Linked DNA regions of Homo sapiens: region 1 is linked to region 2. Evidence: fine-mapped expression QTL. Tissue or cell type: whole blood. Region 2 holds a variant in brackets; the other region holds the start of a gene. All regions are shown on one strand. Distances are from middle to middle. Region 1 holds the start of SLC2A1 (solute carrier family 2 member 1). Region 2 overlaps SLC2A1 (solute carrier family 2 member 1).

What was found.
Region 1: SLC2A1 starts here. The variant in region 2 is fine-mapped to the expression of SLC2A1 in whole blood (TOPMed, PIP 0.97).

What each region holds. Positions count from the first base shown.
Region 1 is chr1:42,957,546-42,960,447 of GRCh38, forward strand. SLC2A1 (solute carrier family 2 member 1) reads right to left here and starts at 1,323. Exons shown (of 10, transcript NM_006516.4): 1 at 1,089-1,323. The coding sequence starts at 1,106. SLC2A1-DT (SLC2A1 divergent transcript) reads left to right here and starts at 1,504. Exons shown (of 4, transcript NR_033967.1): 1 at 1,504-2,032. RefSeq lists silencers at 444-1,083, 1,214-1,623, 1,496-1,679.
Region 2 is chr1:42,936,595-42,939,496 of GRCh38, forward strand. All of the region lies in intron 2 of SLC2A1 (solute carrier family 2 member 1), which reads right to left. Among named protein-coding and RNA genes, the nearest start is that of SLC2A1, 21 kb to the right of the region's middle. RefSeq lists an enhancer at 219-288. The variant G/A (reference allele first, on the strand shown) is at 1,411.

The DNA.
Region 1 (2,902 bases), 21 kb after region 2:
AATAGATAAAGAGGGACCGTTTCAAAAGAAAAAGGGGACTTGAAAATATTGTAGACTAGGGGGAGGAAAGGAGGTGGAAAGAAACAATGCCCTACACACAGGAGGGGCTCCACAAACAATTTGTTGAAAAGAAATCGCTCTGCGGACGCTACAAAGATGCCCTGCAGGACAAGCCCACTTACACAGAAAAAAAGAAATCCTATCTAGGGAGTTGTTGGTCCCCAGAGTCCCCATCCCTCATTCCCCAACCCCGTGGCGTGCGCGCTTCCCGCTAGACTTCAGCCTGGGGCTCTTTCCTGGCCCCCAGATCCCCCGCCCCTCCGGTTGCGCTCCCCGCCTGGCCCCGAGGGTAAACCTGCCTCCGCGGAACACATCTCCGCGAGACTGGGCCAAAGCTTTGGGGCCTGCACTCCTCGCAAAGGAGAGCCTCCGAGACCGGAGGTTCATCTCAACCCCCGCGTTCGAGCCCGGGCCTGGAGAAAAGTGCCCTCCCCTCGGCCTCGGCCTCGTCACCGCGGGGGACTGGCGGGAGGAGTAGGGGAGGCCGGTGGGACACCTCGCACCAGGCCGCCCACCTACAGGGGCGTCCGGGCTAGGGGAGCAGACGGAGAGCGGGGGCGGCTCCTGACTCCTCCGCGCGCCGGGGCCGGGGCCGGGCCGGGGGCTCGGCCCGCTCAGCCAATGGGCGCCGCGCTCGGGCCCCCTCCCCCGCACCGGGAGGGGCCGAGGCTGGGCTGCTGCTGCCGAGGTCGTGTGCGACGTGCCGCTCCCGGGCCCTGTGTCCCCAGCCCCAGCAGGGCCGCGTGGACGGCGCGGCGCCCCCGGAAGGAGGCCATGTGCTCAGTGCCGGCGCCAACTACGCACGCGGCGCCCTCCGGCCCGCTAGATCCGAAGCCCATCCCCACTGCGGCCAGCGGCCCGGCGGGGCGCTGCGCTCGGGACCCGCACCGAGCCAGGCTCGGAGAGGCGCGCGGCCCGCCCCGGGCGCACAGCGCAGCGGGGCGGCGGGGGAGGCCCTGGCCGGCGTAAGGCGGGCAGGAGTCTGCGCCTTTGTTCCTGGCGGGAGGGCCCGCGGGCGCGCGACTCACCTTGCTGCTGGGCTCCATGGCAGCGCTGCGCTGGTGGCTCTGGCTGCGCCGGGTACGCGGGTGGCGACGGGCGTGCGAGCGGCGCTCTCCCGCTCAGGCTCGTGCTCCGGTCCGGGGACTCCCACTGCGACTCTGACTCCGACCCCCGTCGTTTGGTCTCCTGCTCCCTGGCGTGCTCACTCGGGGACCCGCGACTAGCGACCGGCACGCTCGCTGTTGCTACCTCTTGCCTCTTGCCAGAGAGCGCGCGGACCGTAGCGTTTATAGGACCCCGGCCATTGGCTGGCGACGCCGGTGTGTCAGGGGTGTGTGGGCAGGACCTCGGGGCGGGGCCTGGGGCCCAGCCTGTCCTGGGCGGCGCTCTGCGGGGAGGGGGTGAGGGGAGTGGCCGGGGCCGGGGCCCCCCCTAACCACTGCCTCGCTCAGGCTGCCGATCGGCTCGTTCTCTCTGCGTTGGGACCGCGGAGGGCATTCGCTGTGTGACTCAGGGCAAGTGTGCGCACCTCTCTGAGCCTCCGCGGCCTTCTCTAGCAAAATGGTGGAGCCGGTACCCGGCTGTAAGGCAAGCTGGGATGCGCGGAGTAGCGGGTGGAAAGCTGGACTGGAGTTCTCACTCGGCCGCTGGGTGACTTCGGTGCACTAGGGATAGTAACAGTACCACCTCGTAGGGTTGTAGAAAGACCAAGTGAGTTAATATTTGTAAAGTGTTTAGAACAGCGTCTACTGCATGGAAAGTAGTATTTATTTGTTAGAGAGACTCCAGGAGGTCTTGCCCAGGGATTGACTTCTCCCTTCCCTGTCTCCACCCCCCACATTCCCGTTTGTGAGCCAAGCCTTGCTTTTGCACCGGCCGGGCTCTCTTGCCTGGAAATGCATACCCATCTCAAACCTGGGCTTTAAAATCACCTCCTCTGGGACGCCTTCCTCTACTTCTCACAGTTCAGGTGAGTCTATGGTGACCTGTAAGTGTGGAAAATATGAAAGGCAGGCTAACTGACTGACATGATAGGACATTAAGGACATGATAGACCTCGGGTTTGAACCAGCTCAACTGTATACTGGCCCGGCCGCGATCCTGGGCGAGTTCCTGGCCAGTGAGGCTGTTTTCGTTTTTTTCTTTAATTTTTTTTTTTCTCAGACAGAGTCTCGCTCTGTCGCCCAGGCTGGAGTGCAGCGGCACGATCTCGGCTCACTGTAACCTCCGCCTCCCGGATTCAAGCAGTTCTCTGCCTCAGCCTCCCGAGTAGCTGGGATTACAGGCGCCCGCTATCACCCCTGGCTAATTATTTTTATTTTTAGTAGAGACGGGGTTTCACCATTTTGGCCAGGCTGGTCTTGAACTCTTGACCTCGTGATCCACCCACCTCGCCTCCCAAAGTACTGGGATTACAGGCGTGAGCCACTGAGCCCGGCCGAGGCTGTCTTCTTATGAGTAAATGGAATTCCCACACCAATCTCATTGCTATCAGGAGAGGTGCAATTTCCAGATAAGCTCATGAAGTGTTTAGCATGGAAGTTCTCATTTACTGGTTGGTGGTATTGTTGGTTTATTTATTTAGTCTGTTAGTAAATAAATAAATGCTGGTCTCAAACTCCTGGGCTCAAGTGATCCTCCCACCTTAGCCTCCGTAGTAGCTGGGAGTGCAGGCATGTGCCACTGCACTGGTAGTGGTATTGCTATCATCTGACTTCACCTTATTTCCTCTAGACCAGTGCCTTACTTGAGACACAGTGAAGGGAAGGACCCCCAGTCCAAAGGTCTGATCAAAGTCTTGAGGGTCCCTTTCCCGATGGAGGGAGTCATGGTGGGCTTA
Region 2 (2,902 bases):
CACCCAGGCTGCTTCCCTGGAACAGCCCTGACATGGCTAGCCTCCAAACCAAGGCCAGGCCAGGCCAGGCCTCCCGGTAGACAGAGGAATCATCCCACTGCCGTGGCCACACCCGAAGCCCTTCTCAGCTCTTGCAATAAAGTGTCTCCTCTACCCCAACTATGACTCACAAGGCACACGCAGTGACTCCCTCATACGACCTAGACACCTCACACCTTTGCTTGGGCCTAATCACCTTTCAGAACATGCACAGATACTCCTCTGGAAAGCCTTCCTCCCGAGAACCACCCCTCCCACTCCACTGCAACTGGTTCTCAAACAGAGACGGCTTTGGTACCCCATAGGACATCTGCCAATGCCCAGAGACATTTTTGGTTGCCACACTGGCTACTGGTATCTAGAGGGCAGAAGCCAAGGATGCTGATAAACATCCTCCAATGCATGGGACAGGCCTCTACAACACCAGCAGAAACATCACAGTGCCAAGCTGAGAAACCCTGCTCTAAGGGCGAAGCACCCTCTCCCTCTTCCTTCCCTGCTCCCACTGTGCTTGCTCGCATTTCCATCATCGCCTTTAGAAGACTAACTGTAAGGTACCGTGTGCTCCCTGTACAGTAAACCTCAGCACGGAGATGGTCTGTCTGATGCATCCATGTTGCTGGTGCCCAGCACGGTGGTGGAGGTGCAGAGTTGACACTAAATGACCAACAAGCCATGAATCTAACTGAAGGGCTTGAGGGGTGATGTGATATGACAGGGTGTGATGGTGTAAGAGATTGTGCAACTGTGTGTGGGAAACCTGAGATGTTGGTACATGACTGAGCTTGACTCAGCTCCAAAGTGAGACCACACACTGCCAGCTAGGTGGCAGTTGTAGGTGAGTGAAAGGGTGTTTAGGTGCCCATCTGGGACTGTGTCCATCTTCCACAATGGTCAAGGGCACAGACTAGGGCCAGACTCCCCGGAGTTACATTGCAGCCTTGCCACTTACTAGCTGTGTGTCCTTGCTTTAATTGCTTAACATTCCTGTGCCCCAGTTTCTTATAGAGCAGGGAAAATTATGGTGTCTGCCTAATGGGGTTATTTTGAAGAACAACTGAATTACTATTTCTAGAGTATGTATAACAATGCCTGGGCAAGCTATAAGTAAGCAGTAAGGGTTTATGGTAGTGGTGACGGGTGAAGGGGAGAGAGGACTAGAACTCTTTGGATATAGGAGAGAGAAGGAGAGGCTGCCTAGAGCACGAAGCCCAGTTCAGCCTGACGGGACACAGGGCTTGGGTTGGGAGGCGGGTGTTGCCTCCAGCTCTTTCACTCACCAAGCTGGGTCATCCTGGGCAGACCTCACCTCCTCTGCAGACCAGGTTCCTCCTTTGTCAAACAAGGAGTGTTGTTTGTCAAACAACTGAG[G/A]CCTTTCTGGCCCAAACTCTGGATTCTGAGGATGCCTTATTCTCAGACATGCCTGACACTGTCCCTTGGGCCAGGACTTCATGGTTTCTCAGTGGCCGTCAGTCATCTCTACTGGCAGCTCAGTCATTTGGGGAGGGGAAAGGCAGTGCTCGGATGAGCCCAGTATGATGGTCAGGATTCCCTGGTTCATTTAGCTGCTCCCTCTGTGGCTGGGCTCACCTCTTCTGCTCTGTCCTCCTCCTCCAGGAGGGGATGCATGGCAGGAATGTCCTGTCACACTCACAGCAGGGCAGGGGCAGTGTGCAGAGCTGGGGAGGCACAAGGCCTGGAGCCCACCTCTAGCTCAGCCTCTCACTCTCCAGATACCTCATCTGGCTTCAGTTCCCTCATTTAGAAGAGGGGAAGATGTCAGCCCCGCCTGCCTTGTAGAGTTGCTGTGAGGTGGTAATTTATGGGGTGGTGCTTTGTAAACATATAAGGTAGTATGATTAATTAACCACTTCCAGGAGGAAGCCCTTTGGGGCCTGTTTTATGGAAGAGAACAAGCTTCTGGCATCCTCACCACTTGTGGGGCAAAGTCTCTTCTCAAGAGTAGGCAAACTGTGGCCAACCCAATGCTGTTTCCTAAGAGAGGTTCTTCTAAACAGACAAGGGAAGTCAGTGTGCCCACTGCAGGCAGTTAGCAATTCCGCATCAGCAGAACATTTCACACCCCTGCACCTCTGCAGAAGCCCCTCTCACTGCCCAGACACCTGCCCCTCCTGCCCTATGAGGTCAACTAACCCTTCAAGGTCGAGCATGGCTGCCAAGTCCTTCGTGAAGCCCTTTTTTTAATCTCCCCTGTCACCCCAGCCCCAGCATTAGTTGCCCCGTTTGCTCTCACAGCACCTTGAAGCCCTCTGTTAGTGACACTCTGGCTTTCTCCAAGGGGTCTCTCCCACTGCTGTGGAGACAGGGCCTGGCTCAGACTGTGTCTCAGGCAGCTCCCTGAGGGCCAGCATGTGCCTGCTGTGTTCACAGCTATACTTCTCTCTCCTTACTGTCTAGGACCGCATCTGGCACAGCGTGGATGCTCAGGAAGTCCTGGCTGAATGAAAGGGTTGGCCAGATGGAATCTCTGTGTCGCCCTAGGGCAGGCCTTCAGCCTACGCGGGCACAGGAGTCTCTCTGCCCTGTTACTACACATGGGCTCTGAGCCTCACTTTCATTTCTTCTTCTTGGGTCCTTCTGTCCTCTCTTCACATGTTACATGTATCACTTCTAATCTGGCTCCTGGTTGGAAAAACTACAGCCAGCCTTGTGAGAAGTGTTTGTAAAGTACAAAAGTCAACAGACCAAGTGTCTGGGTGCTTGCCCAAGAAACACCGCTAGATTTCAGCGTTCTCAGTTCTGGCCACTCACATCTCCAGCTTCGGTCTGCTGGGGCTGGTTCCTGAAGTGACCTTTGGACAGGTGACCATACATGGTCCTATGAATGCAGTTTACAGGCTCA